2 separate regions of the Homo sapiens genome follow, and region 2 is linked to region 1. The links come from fine-mapping of genetic effects on gene expression. Tissue or cell type: whole blood. Region 1 holds a variant in brackets; the other region holds the start of a gene. All regions are shown on one strand. Distances are between the middles of the regions.

What was found. PIP is the estimated chance that this variant, and not a neighbour inherited with it, causes the effect.
Region 2: GPSM1 starts here. The variant in region 1 is fine-mapped to the expression of GPSM1 in whole blood (INTERVAL, PIP 0.95).

The regions. Positions count from the first base shown.
Region 1 is chr9:136,434,348-136,442,347 of GRCh38, reverse strand. It overlaps INPP5E (inositol polyphosphate-5-phosphatase E), which reads left to right and starts at 2,503. Exons shown (of 10, transcript NM_019892.6): 1 at 2,503-3,740; 2 at 7,485-7,608. The coding sequence starts at 2,929. It overlaps SEC16A (SEC16 homolog A, endoplasmic reticulum export factor), which reads left to right. Exons shown (of 32, transcript NM_014866.2): 32 at 525-2,243. The coding sequence ends at 593. RefSeq lists silencers at 2,345-2,544, 2,595-2,774, 2,835-3,324 and enhancers at 2,397-3,030, 3,031-3,665, 3,615-3,724, 3,666-4,299, 5,836-6,344. The variant AGGGC/C (reference allele first, on the strand shown) is at 3,747.
Region 2 is chr9:136,323,460-136,331,459 of GRCh38, reverse strand. GPSM1 (G protein signaling modulator 1) reads right to left here and starts at 3,921. Exons shown (of 14, transcript NM_001145638.3): 1 at 3,697-3,921. The coding sequence starts at 3,764. DKFZP434A062 (a long non-coding RNA gene) reads left to right here and starts at 4,137. Exons shown (of 1, transcript NR_026964.3): 1 at 4,137-8,000. RefSeq lists enhancers at 2,701-3,229, 3,230-3,759, 6,289-6,917, 6,918-7,544 and a silencer at 4,793-5,087.

The DNA.
Region 1 (8,000 bases):
CTGTCACCTGCTTTTCAGCATCCAGACTAGTCGATTTTGGTATTGTCCTGCTCCCTTTACCATGTGGTTAGTGCCTTTACAAAAATTCCTTGGCTTTCCCCTCCATGAGGCTTTGCGAGGGAGCAAGAGTGGATGCCTGCATTGGCCAGCTGTCTGCAACTGAGGTCCCCGCGTCCCATGCAGTAGGCCAGGCCTGGCCACCACTTGTCCCTGGACTCTGGACAGCCAGGCTGGCTCTGCAGAGCAGCTCCAGGTCTCATGGCCCTGATGAAACCACGGCACCTCCTGGCCACCCTCACAGTAAACATTGATGGTTAAGGATACAGTGCTTTCAAGGGAGCCCAGGACTTGGCACTGACTTGTCGGTTTCCAGAGGCTTTTGGAAACAAAAACGAAGCCTTCAGCTTGTCAGCGCCAATGGCCCGTGTGGTTCATTATGTGGACCAGCCCCTGCCACGCTGCAGCCGAGCACTGCTCACCCTGGGGGCAGGCATGCAGAGGTCATGCTGTTGATTTCATTCCAGGCCTGCGCCACCTCCGGGAGCTCAAGGCTAGGGAGGATTGGCCAGAGGAAGCACCTGGTGCTGAACTAGGCTTGCCCTGCTGTGAACTTGCACTTGGAGCCCTGACGCTGCTGTTCTCCCCGAAGAACCCGACCGACCTCCGCGATCTCCGTCCCGCCCCCAGGGAGACACAGCAGTGACTCAGAGCTGGTCGCACACTGTGCCTCCCTCCTCACCGCCCATCGTAATGAATTATTTTGAAAATTAATTCCACCATCCTTTCAGATTCTGGATGGAAAGACTGAATCTTTGACTCAGAATTGTTTGCCGAAAAGAATGATGTGACTTTCTTAGTCATTTAGGATGATTTAAGGATATAGTATTCCTGGTCATTTAAGAATGTTCATTCATTGAAGCCGGAGCTGTCTCTGCCACAGGAGAGCCACATGGTCGGTAGTAACCAGGGCCTCTCCAAGCCCAGCTGTGAGTCACTGCCCAGTGAGTCCCGCGCTTCCTTTAAGGTGCTGGGAGCAAAGAGAGGGTGACTGAGGCAGACCCCAACCCCTGCTCTGCACCATCTGGGCCCTCGCCGTGTTTGAACCTGGCTGAATGAGTGGAGGGCGCTGTGTTCTCAATCAGCGCCTCCGAGGAGCCGTGGGGTTCCTTCGGCATTAGTTCACGGTTTTTGAGAGAGGCCTTAGTTACTGCAGTGAATTTCTTTCCTGTTGCAAAGACGCTTCCAGCCTCACTTTACTTTCTGTGGCCTGATGAGGACCATGGGTGATTTTGTGTACCCAAAGCGCTGGGGACTGCCCACCGTGTGGCCCAGTCACTGGGAAGGAGCCCCAGAGAGCCGGCTGTCTGACATGATGGCTCAGGGTGGTCATCCAGGTTGAAAACTGACCGTGTGATGTTTGATTTGGGCTTCATTTCGTGTGTAGGAGCACGGTTAGACTCACTGTTAAGGAAGCTGGATGCACTTCTCTAAAAGGCTGCACTTTCCGTGAGCACTTTTCGTGGTACAATCCACATGACCCACTTTCTCCCCTGGGGGACGTTGGTTCAGAGGTTGGTAGCACTTGGGGAGAGTATCTTAACACAGTTTCTTGACAGCAGCTCTGGAACTTAGTATTTCTGCCCCGAGTTTTGCCACACTGAGACTTTGAGTAGCTCCTGGTGGACTCAACCCTGTTCAACTCAGAGACGGGCCTCCTCTCACTGATGCAAAGCTTTAAGGCTTCTCTGACTGTTCTGAAACTCTTCGTATTCTTGTCAAGTCTAAAGAGACTGAAGAAAAGATTTAAATACTAATAAAAATCAGTAGATAATTTCTGTAGGTTCTGCTGGAGGAATACAAACTGTTTGGTGTTTTAAATTTAAGTGTAGAAATTGTAGAATGTGGAATTAGCACAGATCCTTCCTGGCTTTCTGTTTCACTTGATCATTTAGCCCAGACCACCCAGGATGTTTTCCAAAATGTTCCACAGGCGTGTCCCGCTGGATCCATTTGTCCTTGTCACTTGGAGAAAGGCCAGTCCCTGTGACGGGGCAGCCCTCTCTGTCCCTCGGTCAGCTCGTGTGAATCCTGGGACCTCTTCCGGTCGGCTCTGCCCGCTGTTCTGGGGTCGACTGCCACGACTTTTGATTCAAGAAGCTTCCTCCAGGCGGGAGCGGCTATTTTTCCTAAATGAGAATTGTTACATTGCAAATTGTTGAATAAAATATTTTGCGCTCCTTCAAGCACCTTCACCTGTGGTTCCCTTTGGTTTGCTGGAAGCGAGTGAGTGCAGGTGTCCGCAGGCCTCGGCGCTGTCCTGGACCGCACCCAGGTCCTCTCCGGGGACCTGCACCTGCCTCGCTGGGACCTGCCGGACTGCGGGGCTGCCGGGTTGGGAGGGGCGTGGGAGACCCGTCCGGGTCCGGTGCGGCGCAGTCCTCCGGCCGCCAGGGGCCGCTGTGGGCGGGGCCGGGGCGCGGGGCGGGGACCGGGCGCGGCCCCGCGGCGGCGGTTGCTGGGTCCCGGCCGGGCTGACTCCGCTTCTGGGCGGCCGGGCCTCCGCGAGTACCGGGTCGACTTCGGAGTCTGCGAGCCCAGCCAGGGGTGCCCGCTTCCCACCCCTCTCCCCGAGCGGCGTCCCCGTCGGGGTCGAACCTCCCCCGCGACAGGCGCCCAGCCGCCTGTTCCCCCAGGCCTTGCCTGCGGACCGCCCTGGGAACGGCGTCTGGGAGCCCCGAGGGGCTGGCGGGACTCGGGGCCCGGGCCATGCGGCAGCCGCCCCCGCCCCTCCGCGACCATCCCCGGCCCAAGCGGGAGCCGCAGCGGCGTTTCTGCTCCTCGCTGCGCCGGCGACCCCGGACCCGGCACCCGTGACCCCTCGCGCTGCCTGCGGCCTCGCGCCGAGGCCTGCCCCGGGAGAGACCGTCCATGCCGTCCAAGGCGGAGAATCTGCGGCCCTCCGAGCCGGCCCCGCAGCCGCCGGAAGGGAGGACGCTCCAAGGACAGCTTCCCGGCGCTCCGCCGGCCCAGCGCGCGGGGTCCCCACCCGATGCTCCGGGCTCCGAGAGCCCCGCGCTTGCCTGCAGCACTCCGGCCACGCCCAGCGGCGAGGACCCGCCAGCCCGAGCAGCACCCATCGCCCCGCGGCCCCCCGCCAGGCCTCGACTGGAGCGAGCCCTGTCCCTGGACGACAAGGGCTGGAGGAGGAGGCGTTTTCGAGGCAGCCAGGAGGACCTGGAAGCCCGGAATGGGACCAGTCCCTCCAGGGGCTCAGTGCAGAGCGAGGGCCCCGGGGCCCCCGCCCACAGCTGCTCCCCGCCCTGCCTGAGCACCTCCTTGCAGGAAATCCCCAAGTCCCGCGGGGTCCTGAGCAGTGAGAGAGGGAGCCCGTCCTCGGGGGGTAACCCTCTCTCTGGGGTGGCCAGCAGCTCCCCGAACCTCCCGCACAGAGACGCCGCCGTGGCGGGGAGCTCGCCCAGGCTGCCCAGCCTGCTGCCCCCGCGCCCACCGCCTGCCCTGAGCCTGGACATCGCCTCCGACTCCCTGAGGACAGCAAACAAGGTCGACTCGGATCTTGCAGACTACAAGCTCCGCGCGCAGCCGCTCCTGGTGCGGGCCCACAGCAGCCTGGGCCCCGGCCGGCCGCGGAGCCCCCTGGCCTGCGACGACTGTTCCCTTCGCTCGGCCAAATCCTCCTTCAGCCTCCTGGCGCCCATCCGCAGCAAGGACGTCCGCAGCAGGTAGGG[AGGGC/C]CTGGCGGGTGCAGCGCCCGCGCCGCCTTCGTTGTAGTGTTCAGGCTGCTGGAACCTCGTGAGACCGTTCCCATCAGCAGCGTTTAAGATGCCTAACCGGAAAGAACGAAGCGGGTCTCCCGCAGCCACCCCATCTCCCAGCCCCACCCCACAGCAGCGCCCTTCCCAGAACTTTTCCTGTGCGTTTCAGAACCATTCGTGGGCGTGACGTTGTGTTAAGGTAGACAGGATGGCATCCTGCATACAATTACGTATCTGGCGCTTTTTCTTGTTTAGTCTTGGGAAATGTCGTCAATGTATACGATCCGCCCCTTTGGTTGTTTTTGTTTGTTACTCTCTCTGTCGCCCAGGCTGGAGTGCAGCGGCGCGATCCCGGCTCACTGCAACCTCTGCCTCCTGGGTTCAAGGGATCCTCCTGCCGCAGCCTCCTGAGAATCTGGGATTACAGGCGCCCGCCACCACACCCAGCTAAATTTTGTATTTTTAGTAGGGGCGGGGTTTCGCCGTGTTGGCGAGGCTGGTCTCGAACTCCTGGCCTCGGCCTCCCAAAGTGCTGGGATTCCCGGCGTGGGCCACTGCGCCCGGCCTGCCCCCTTTGTTTTTTTCTGCGGCAAGAGGCCCCAGATGTGTTGAGGCTACTTTCGTTTAGCCACTTGCTCATGAGGAACATTTTGGTGGGCTCCAGCTGTTGCTGGAAGGAACTGCAGCTGAACCCATGACCTCTCCCAAGCCTGGTCTTGTCTTGGGGTCTCAGTCTGGGGGCCTGTCCTGAGATGCTCCCACTATGACTTGGCAGAGTCACCTGCACCCTTCTTTTCCTCCCCCCACCCCACTGCCATGGTGCCCAAGTCTTGTCTGTCAGCCGCGGCGGGAGGCAGGACAGGTGTGAGAAGGGAGAGGTGTGAGGTGGTTTCTGTGTTGGTGTCCTGGGGCCGTTGTAACTCATGACCACAGACTGGGAGGCTTGCAACAGCAGAGCTGGACTCTCTCCCAGTTCTAGAGGCCAGAAGTCTAAAATCAAGGTGTGGCCACGCAGCCTCTCTCCAGAGGCTCAGGGGAGGGTCCTCCCGCTGCCTCCCGCTCCTGGGGCCCCACTTGTTCCTTGGCTTGTGGCCGCATGCTCCAGTCTCTGCCTCTGTCTTTATGTGGCCTCTTCCCTGTCTCTCTGTGTTCCCCTCTCTTTTTATAAGGACACCAGTCATTGAATTTACTGCCTACCCTAAATCCAGGGTGGTCTTATCTCGAGATCCTTAATTAAACACGTTTGCAAAGACCCCGTTTCCGAATAAGGTCCCATTCCAAGGTTCTGGGGCTCTGGGAGTGGACATGGCTTTGGGGATCACTGTTCAGCTCACCACAGTCCCCGAAGGTAGCCTCACTTCCCCGCGTCTGTGGTGCACCAGCAGGCAGGTGGGCTCAGGCCTGGAGTGAGGGCCCGTGCCTGGCGCCCCCACCATACTCTCCTCCTGTCATGGATGGAGCAGGTGCGATCACATCCAGGGCAAGACTGCTGCTTTTGTTAAAATAATTCACTGCAGGGCTTCTCGTAAAGAGTGAGATTTCTTAGTGCATCTAAAGCATCACATTTTAAAATTAGATCCGGTTGACGTAGATACACCTGTTAGAGAAAAGGACAGTCGTGTCTCAAATTTGGACCCTCAAGTCATTGTTTTCAAACAACCAGGAAACGAGGGTTGACGTGGATCCTTTAACCCAGTTCTGCTGCCTAACAGCTTCCCATTTCCAGACCTCCGGTCTGTTCTAGAATAGGAGTCGGCGCACTCTTTCTGTCAAGGGGGAGACACAGACAGTGGGGACCAAAGGGCGTCTGTGTGCCAGTGAGTCTATTAGGGACATACATTGGAACCTCGCTCTTTTTTCTTTCTCTGCCGTTCCACACAGTAAAACCCATTCTGAGTTTGCGGGCCGCGTGTGCACGGGCTGGGTCCGCCCTGTTTGAGAATGGCTGCTGGCTTTTGCCAGTGCCTTGGGGCTGCCAGGGCGGGTTAGGGGGCCTTTCCCCACCCGTTCCTTTTGCTCGGAGAGCTGGCCCAGGCTGTGGCAGCCAGCCTGAGCGTCCTCATGCAGAAGCTGTGCAGTGTCCTGGCCCTGGATGGGGGTCCGAGGCAGCTCTGCCCCTGCCCGTGTCTAGACACAGGAATGGCTGTGAGGGCCGCCCCTGGCCTGCTGTTACTAACCATGCTCTGGACAGAGCTGGGCAGACTGACCACGTGGCTGCTGGTGTGGACATGATGGGCGCTGCCGGCAAAGGGGCCGTGGGCCTCCAGCCTGGTGACCGAGGAGCCCCTGCTGGGCCCGGGATCACTTGACAGGGGTGCCCACAGGAACGCTCTCTGTCCCGAATGACCACTGTGTGAACACAGCTGTCCCGACCGGGATTGTCGACAGTTTTAGGGGTGAGGTAGCGAGGTTCCTCCCTGCTGACATGATTTAACGTGTCCAGTGAAGCTTGGTGAGCCGCAGCCAGGGTTGAAGAAGTTCTCGCGGGAGGTCACAGGAATCCGGCACTATGCTCTCGTGTCCCCTTGCGGAAGGGAACCATGTCAGAAGACGGCGTATCCAGAAGGAGCCGCACAAGTGTTACTTAGAGAGGGAGCGGGGAGGACGGCTGGCAAGCCTAGCCCACGGCGTTTCTGTATAGTCGGCGAGCTGAGAACGGGTTTTACATTTCCAAATGGTTGGAAAAAGTCAAAACCATTCTAATGATGTTTCATAGTACAAGAAAATTGTAAAATTCAGATTTCAGTGTCTGTAAATCAAGCGTCTCGGGCACACGGCTGCACCCCTTGTGTCCACATCCCCTGGTGGCTCTTGCACCACCGTAGCAGAGCCCACGGCGACAGACACTGGATGTCCCACGGAGCGGCAGGCGTGTGCGGTTGCCTCTTGACGGGTTACCAGCCCTCGTGGCAGAAGGTGCTGAGTGTGGGGAGGGGCAGGGACGTTGCTGTGCCACACGGTGTTTAACCATCTGTGTGCACCGCCGTATTAAAATCTGAAAGCATCAGCCTGGACAACGTGGCGAGACCCTGTTTCTACAAAAATAAAAAATAAATAAATAACTAGCCGGGCGTGGTGGCACTGCACCTGGAGTCCCAGCTACTCGGGAGGCTGAGGCAGGAGGATCACTTGAGCCCGGGAGGTAGAGGCTGCAGGGAGCTGTGTTAGTGCCACTGCACTCCAGCCTGGGCACGGAGTGAGACCCTGTCCCCACTAGAAACCAAAACAAGCAAACCCAAAAGTGCGTCAAAGCCACGGGGTGTCGAGGAGATGGACGCGTTTCCGTGTGGCTCGTGTGGTCTCTGTATCTTAGACCGTCCTGCCTGGTGCTGGGGCCAAAGGAGAAAGGAGGAGGACCAGCCCCTCCCCGAACAGCACCCTGTGCCCACTGCCTTGGCTTATAGTTTGGGAGCTCCTCTCTGTGGCTTTTCCAGGATCCCACCACCAAAAAGCCCAAACCGTCACCCTCTCATGCCTCTTCCCGGGAGGTAGGGAGGGGGTGTGAACCCGCTCTGGGTGTTTGTGCAACCAGGTCAGGCCTTGTGTTCCTGGAGAGCAGACAGCAGTGCCGCGGGGGCCAGGAGAGTCCTTGCTTGGGGCTGGGGGCAGCTCCTGACATTCCATGGGTTTTGCTATTGTCCCTGGGGACCTGGCCCAGACCCCCAGGGATGTGTCCTGTGCCTGGCCCTGAGCTTGGGGTCCTCCCGTCACAGGAGTTACCTGGAGGGCAGCCTCCTGGCCAGCGGGGCCCTGTTGGGGGCGGATGAGCTGGCCCGCTACTTCCCAGACCGGAACGTGGCACTCTTCGTGGCCACCTGGAACATGCAGGGCCAGAAGGTGAGTGGCTGTGGGTGGTGCTGGGCGGGGAAGGGTGGGGTGGTGCTGGACAAAGGCGGGTGAGGGGGACGGGGCAGCTCTGTGCCTCATCCTGGGGCCAGGAGGGCAGAGCCCCGAGGTGCACCCCACTGCTAACCGCAGTACAGGAGGGTGAGAGTGGGTAAGGACCCCCATCCCCCAGAGCTCCCACCTGCACCTCCCTGGCCACGTGGCTGCAGAAAGTAGGGGAGGGGGTTGGGGCAACGGGCCTGGCCGAGAATCACCTGCTCAAGGTGAGCGGGAGGGCGGCCAGCGGGGCACGCGTAGGGGTGGCTCAGGGACAGGGTGGGCAGCACGGGCTGGGGTCATGGTGACGGGAGGGTCATACAGGGGTGGTCGTTGGACAGACTCGT
Region 2 (8,000 bases), 110 kb after region 1:
GTGCCTCCTCTGCTCCACCCGACCCCACCTGGCCCCCTCCCCAGCCTCCCTGGCACCAGCCCACGGTGCCAGCATGGGGCAGCGGGGGGGGGGGGCTCAGAGTCCTCACCATGCCAGCCCCACGTCTGCCGGGCCCTCTGTGCTCTCCCTCACCTGACTGGCCAAGGTGCGAACAGGGCCCCAGGTCTGACGGGGTCAGGGCCACGTGGGGCCTGGGGGATGCCGCTCCCCAGGTCGTGGGGCTTGGGAGGCATGGACCACGTTCCCCTAGCCTGGCTCCTTTCCTCAAACTTCCCAAGCCCCCGGCGTCCTTCTCAGCTGGGCTCCCAGCTTCTCCAGCCACCTGTGGCCCATGAGGAGGCTGGAACCTGACAGAGGCGGGGGACTGGGGGGGCAGGTCTTATCCCTGAGACGGCCACGGGGTCTGAGCAGAGGCAGGAATCCAAGGACAGGTGGGGGTCTTCAGGCCCTGGGCTCTCTCCTCCTTACCTTGAGGCCTTGTGGGCTCAGGGGTCCTACTCAGGCCAGACCATTTGTCCACCTTCAGGACAGCTTGGCCAAAGGCGGGGCAGGACCTAGAATGCCTCTCCCTTGCCCAGTCCTCGTCAACAGACTGAACCCTCAGACCCTCCGTGGTGGCTGGGGTGCCATCACCAAGGCCAGTTCCCAAGCCAGCACTGCAACTCCTACTACCTCCGGCCACCCGAAAGCCGTGTCCCTCAGTCCCAGCCCTGCTAACAGAATTGGCACCTGCCCCTCCCCAAGGCCGTCACCTACATGCTGGCCCCTGAGCAGATGCTGAAGAGACTCTGCTCACAGCTGGCTCTATCTGCCCCATCCCCCAGCCAGACACCCCCAGGGAAAACCACACCGACTCCCCTTCAGTGGCCAGGGGAGGGGAGAGAGTGAGGCGCAGGACCGGGCTGGGAGCACAGCGGGAGCTGGAATCACTGGAGAGGGGACTGAAGGTCACCCAGCTGTAGGAAGCACCTGGGGTCAGGCTTGCCAGGAATTCCTAGGGCCCGTCGCTGCCCAGCGACCCACCAGGGATGGTGCCCAGGACGGGGACAGGGGAGGGAGGAAGGATGGAGTGAAGGTAGGGGGTAGCATGGCCATGTGGCCAGAGAGGTTGCGGGGGGCCCAGTCCACACCTGAGGACGTCCTGTCTGGGAGCTGGTGACTGCTGCTTGGAGGGCATCTCTAACAGGGTCACCCCAAGGTGGGTGGCTCTGCTGCCCCTTCCCGGCCCCAGCCCCGGGGAGCACTCAGCTGGCCTTAAAGCAGGTGGGAGGCCAGGAGACGACCACCCAGGGTTTCCCCACTTTCCGGGGCCTTCTCAGCCACTGGCCTGTCCCCGCCAGGCCTCTTCACCCCAAAGCCCTGCTCTGGGCCAGGGAGCCCCTGGCAAGTGGGCCAGAATTCTGAGCATTAACTGTAGCACCCAGGGCCCTGTCCCCACCGACCCAGCACCCAGGGCCCATCCCCACTGACCCAGAACCCAAGGGCCCGTCCCCACCGACCCAGCACCCAGGGGCCCGTCCCCACCGACCCAGCACCCAGGGCCCCGTCCCCACCGACCCAGCACCCAGGGGCCCGTCCCCACCGACCCAGCACCCAGGGCCCCGTCCCCACCGACCCAGAACCCAGGGGCCCGTCCCCACCGACCCAGCACCCAGGGCCCCTCAGGGTACCCAGTGGGCTCATGGGCACATTCATGGGCCTCGCTGTCAGTGTGTTTTCCAGGCACAGTTCCCCATTTTAAAAGCTGAAACTCCTCTCTCCAGGAAGGAATGTCAGTGTGGGAAGGCAGTAGACGGGGCAGAGGAGACCTTGGGCCAACCTGGAGCCCCATCCACATTGAGGGACCCCAGTACAGCCACGTGAGGAGTGCCCACACGGATTCCGCCCACCTCCAGGGCATCCACATGCCCACCGCCCACGCCAGCAGGTGGGCCGCCCCCAGCACTCGGGTTTCAGGAGACAGGAGACTTTTCCGTGTCTTGCTCTCCAGCCCCAGCATGACAGCAAAGGGCCCTCCCGTCTGGCCCGCAGCTTCCACTGGCCCAGAACACGTCTAGGCATCCATGCTCTGAAGCCAGCTCCGACCAGGAACCGCCTGCCCAAACCGGGCTGTGGCTACACGGTGGGGTGCAGACTCCCGGGGGGACCTCGTCACAGGCCCTGCTGGAGGGCTTGGCGCGCTTCCCCCAAGTCTGGGCCTGACTCCACCCTGGAGCTCAACTGGACTCCCTGCTTAGGGGGATGCAAGGCTGGGTCTGGGGTCTCTCTGAGTGGTCCCCCTGAGCACTGCCCCTGCCAGGGGCTGGCTCCTGCCTGGCGTGTCCCCAGGGGACCCCAGGCTTCTAGCTGTAGCCTGGAGAATGCCCAACTCTATGGTCAGCTGTGCAGGCCTCACCCAAGGCTAAGGTCTTGGACACCCGTCTCTCACAGCTCCACACACACACTCTCTCACAGCTCCACACACTCACACTCAAACTCACTCCAGCCAGGGCTGCTATCCATCCCCCTCACAGCACGGCCGCCCTGGAGCACATGCGGCCCTGCACAGCCGATCAGATCAGCGGAGGAAACCCTTGAAAATCCTTTAGGGCAGGCCCCTGGCAGCAGCTGCCAGCAAAATCACCCTCACGCCCCTCCCCTGCGTGGGGCCCAGGAGCCAGGCTAGGGGCTCAGCGCTCCATCCAGGACGGCACAATGGGGCTGTGTCTGGGACCAAAGCAGAGAGCAGACCGGAGGCAGCAAGGCCTCTGTCCGCCGTGCCGCCACCAGTACCTCATTTCGGGTGCCCCAGGCAGAGGCTTGCTGCTTGGCTGGGGCCAGAGAATCCTTGGGGGCCAGGCTAGGCGCCCCCCGGGATCAGCTGCTGGGACCCCTATCAGGGAGGTCACCAGGTTTTAGGGATGTCCAGAGGACAATAGTGTCCCTCGCTCTGGGGAGCCAGGCCTGCCTCTGACGGCTGCCACCCATTCGCAAGCCCCTGCCTGGACCTCACGCTCGTGTGGCTCTGCCTGAGGCCTGGTACCACCCAGCCTTGCTTGGGGCTCCAGGCACCTGCCCGGCTGGGCCCAGGGCAGCCCCTGGGGGGACATTGGGAGTCACCAGGCAGGCATGCCACCTGGGGCAGGGCCACCCTGTCATCCCCAAAGGCGTGGGGCACAGAGCCCAGTCACTGGGATCACCCAGGAATGTGCCCGGAGAGTAGATGCCTTTTCAGGCAGGTACACACCCACCTGGCTGGCTCCCTTCCAACCCAGCTGGATCCCACTGGGCTCGTGGAGGGCTGGTGAGGGGCAGAGCCCCATCCAGAGCAGCCAGGTCTCTTTGGCCATGATGCCCCTGAGTGCCCCGGGCATGGCAGGGCCAGGCTTGGGAGGGAAGCACCCCACGGTGCCCCTGCCAGGTGCCAGGGGAGTGAGGCTGGAGAAGCTGCCCACCCCGCCTCCAGCCCCCCGGCCCCCCACCCCCTTCCCCTTGGCTTGGGGGAAAGAGGGCTTCAGGGGACGCCCACGCGGGCACACGCCGGGCTGGGCTCGGCCTGGAGGGAGGGGCGCGTCCTCAGCCACGCTGCGCGCCCGCGAGAGCTGCCTTTGTTCCCAACTGCAGCCTCCCCCGCGTCCCGACCCGGCCCGGTCCGGTCCCAGCCCCGGCCCCGGCCCCGGCCCCGGCCCGTCCTACCTGGAGTAGAGGCGCCTGGCGGCCGGGCCCGGGAGCTCGTCGGCCGCGGGCGGGGCCGGGCCCGCCATGGGTCGGGGACGCGGGAGCGGGAGCCGGGAGCGCCCCCCGCGCCGTGGCCGTCCGCCCCCTGCCCGCCCTGCTGTCCTCCCTGCTGTCCGCCCTGCTGTCCGCCTGTCCGTCCGCGCCTCGTTCGCCCGTCCTCCCCCGGGGAGGCGCCGAGGAAGTGATGTGCGCGGGGCGCCGCCGCCCCTCCCGCCGCCGTGGCCGTGATGTCACCGCCGCCCGCGCGGGGAGGGGGCGCGGACCGGGCGGCCACCGCCGCGTGCCTCCCTCTGCGGGGGGCGGGGCGGACGCGGGGGGAGGGGCGCCGTGAGGCGGGCAGTCCCCGGGGAGGGGGGAGGGGGGAGGGGGTGTGGGCCCCAGCCCACCCCACCCCAGGGAATGCAGGGGAGAGGGCCTGGGCCTGGCCTTGCTGCTGGTCCCCTGGGGACTTCTGAGGGCCCGCGGGGGTCCCTGGGTCACAGTGCAGCCACACTGGCCTCTGGGCTCCTTTCATCCACAGGCCGCCTGGTGAGCCCCGCAGCCTCACCCACGTGGGGAGGGGCTGCTGAGGCCTCCTTGCCTTTCTTGGTGGGCGCCCTACGCCTCGGGGGTCCTACCCTCCTCTTCTGTGCAGCCCCAACGTGGCTTTGCCCCCTTCTCCAAACTTCTGCCTTGGGCCATGGGGCGCAGGCCGTGGGGATGCTGTCTGCCTGCTTTAGAGAAACCTGGGGCACCGATGACAAATACAGGCTCTGCTTGGCCTGTGGGACGGTTGGTAAGCCCCCCACCTCTGAGACCCTGGGTGGCCACATTCCCCTCCCAAGCTCCCCCGGAATGGGGATGCAGCCTGCCCCTTCCTTCCTCCTGGGCACTGTGCAGGCTTAGGGAGGATGCAGGTGGCACAGTAGGCTGTGCCCACCCGGGGTCCCGGGACCCCAGCCCCTACCGCCTCCTCCTCCTCCTCTGAATTCTTGGAGCCCTGTGGGCCTATGTGGTGTGACGTGGCTTCCCCTCCACCCACCCTCAGCTCCCGATGGCTTGGGGGGTTCTCCGCAGCCAGCGAGGCCCACAGCCGGCCTCCCCGGGTTCTGTCCTGCCCCCGACAGCATCCTGGGCCTTCCGGTGGTGTCAGGAGACTCCAGGCCCTTGAAAGGCAGCTGCGACCCCGGGTATGACTCGGAGAAGTCCAGGAGCAGGAAATGGGCTGCATTCCTTCGGGGCCCCTCCGTGCACCCCAGCCCCTCCCTGGGAGAGCTGCCCTGAGGTCAGGAAAGTGCCGTCCTGGCAAGACCCTCAGCAGCTGCCGCCCACAGGACAGTCAGCGTTTTCAAGCATGGGAAGGAAAATAAACACGAGGTTAAAAAGGGGTCTGTTGGCCCCGGGCTGGTTTGTTTTTCCTGTGTAAGGGAGGCAACGGGAATGAGAACCATCTGTGCCCTGAGCGCAGCGCAAGCTGCCTGCTGGGCCCACGTGCCCTCCCCCAAAGACCACAGAAGCCAGGCAGAGCCTTGCTCCCTTCCAGCCGGGGCCGTGGCTGCTGGCCGGCAGGGACAGTGGTGTTGGCTGGGGCACCACCCTCCTTTGCCACAGCCCTGGGCCTGGCTGCGGGCAGAGAACAGGCCTTCGATTGAAGCTCCAACCTTCCGGGCCACCTCCTTTGGGCTTCGGGCACCTGAGCCAGCATCCCATTGTAAGGGCAGGGGCTGCTGGGGGCCCTGCCTGTGCCAGGCCTCAGCTCAGCCCTCTTTCCCCAGGCGCTGCTGCCATCAGGAGGCCCACAGAGGGTCCACACCAACACTGTGAGCCCCTTGTGGGTCCCCTGGGTTAGTGGTGGGAGGCTGGTGAAGAGAAGTGGGGACAAAAGACATTGCACAAATGGTGGAGGGAGGGAGAGATTTGCAGCCTCGTAGCTGTCATTGCTGGGGGAGCTTCTCCTGGTCTCCTTCCTTGATGCAGAGAGCTGGGAGCTTGTGTCCCTGGGCCGGGAGAGCCCCAACATTATATCAGAACTTGTGGGGAAACCTGCACCCCCGAGGGCTCTGGCTTTGTTAGGCCGAGCTGGGCTATGAGGCTGTGTGACCTGGCACAAGTTGCTTTCCCTCTCTGAGCCTCGGTTCTGTCACCTGAGGGCTGCCCGTCCCGCAAGGTGTGGAGGGTCACTGAGGCGTGGGGTTTCTGCGGTGCTTGTCCATGTGCCTGGCACACAGTGGGGTTTGTGCAGTGCTTGTCCATGTGCCTAGTGGCTCACAGTGGGGTTTGTGCGGTGCTTGTCCGTGTGCCTGGCACACGGTGGGGTTTGTGTGGTGCGTGTCCATGTGCCTGGCACACAGCGAGAGCTGCTGGGGTCATGTTGCTCTCACACTCGTGCCTGCCCCTGCTGGGCCCCTGCAGTGGGTCCTGGCTGGATTGGGGGTACATCCCCACCACACTGCACAGAGGGGCGTCTCCTCCTATCCAGGGACCTGATTCTCCTGTCGAGAAAACCTATGAAGGGGACCCAGAGATGGAGTGTGACAAGGCCAGGTGACAGGCCTGACATGTGGTGTCCACATCCAGAAGGGAGACCCTGGAGGGATGACCCTCCACTGCCACCCCCTCCCATCAGGCTCTGGACACCCTCGAGCCTCCCACCATCCACCTTACCAGATCCCCCCAAGAGTCCGGGAAGCTCACTCCCCCAGGGGACCAGGAGCACAGCCCCTTCCATTCCTAACGGGCCTGACTCCCAAAGGGGGGTGAGGAAAGAAAAAGCCATTTCACATCGACTTATTCTTCTGGCCCCAGGCAGCAGCACAGGGCGCAGGGTGGGCCTCTGCAGACACGATGGCTCCGTGGTCAGGGAGGGGCCACCTCCCATGTGCCTGGGGAGGGGCCCTCCCAAGCCCCTGCGTGGCAGCGCCAAGGGGTTGGAGTCAGCCCCAGCACACACAGGGCCCTGCTCACTGGTGGCCATTGTCAGCGCCACCTCCACCTTCAGGAGCCTGCCACGTGCCTGCCCTCGGTCACTTAGCCCTCCCTGGCACGCACCACTTTGTCCACACACCCTGTGTGTAAGTGGTGACAGCGGTGACAGCTCAGGCGTCACCTGATCGGGCCGACTCTAAGCCTTAGTCCTTCCTTGTCCTGTTGCGCCGGACAAGCCTCTGGGAGGCGACGGTGGGACAGCCACAGGGTTCTTGGCTCAGCCCCCAGGAGTGGGGAGCTGGGGCTCTGGACGGAGGTGGGCACTCGAGGCTGGTGTGGCCTCCTGGGTGAGGGCCAGGCTCGGGAGAGGCAGCCAGGCGGCCCCAAGCCACCCCAGGAACAAAGCACCAGCACACACCTCCACTGGTTTGCTAGGGCTGGGAGAAGTTGGAGTGTTTCTGTGGTGGCTGTGGCAGCCCACGGCCCCAAGACCCTGGCTTCCTTCTGCTCCCACCTTTTCAGGCCCCTTCCCCAACAAGCAGCTACTGTAGGACCCAGTGGGGGCTAGGGCACCAGCAGCTGCCATTACCCATGCTGGGTCCTGATGGTTCCTGACCAGCCTCAACCGTGGATTCCAAGCTGGGGAAGGAAGAAGCAGGCCGGGAGTGGGGAGGGAGACAGTGAAGGACACCCAAACACACACACACACACACACACACACACACACACACACACACACACAGAAGGAACAGTTTCAGCTTTGTTTCCCAGTAATCTCACTTAAAAAGAACACTTGGGTTTACCATGTTCACATAATCTCGTTGCTCTGAGAATGAACTTATTCTTCCTCCCAGCTTGGCCATGTGTTCCTCCCCATTGCCCAAGTCCCCTCATGACATCATCTCCCACTGCCATGTCCTTTCCTTGGGGACCTCCAAGTCCCTGGAGTTTGGGGACTGCAGGGTGGGTGGAGGGGCCCACAAGCTCTGCAGGGAGCCAGAAGGAAACGGTCTGTCCCACCCCAGGGCTGAGCACCTCGCTGGGAGATGATACCCACACCTGGAAATAGCTCAAGGGCCGCGTGAGGCCGCACGACACCCACGCCAGTATGAGACACCTGGCCATGCGGCATTCCTGGCCGACTGCTGGCAGCTGCAGACTTTGTCAGCCAGGTGATGTCCCCGGGATCTCTGGGCAGGCAGGGCACACAGGAGGCAGCTCACGCTCACTCATCATGGCGAGGCAGGTCGTGTGGAACTTCCTTGGTCTTCCTCATCTGCGCCCCACCCAGCCTGGCAGATGGTGATGCTGTGAGTGCCAGGGAAACACACACACGCACACACACACACATGCACACA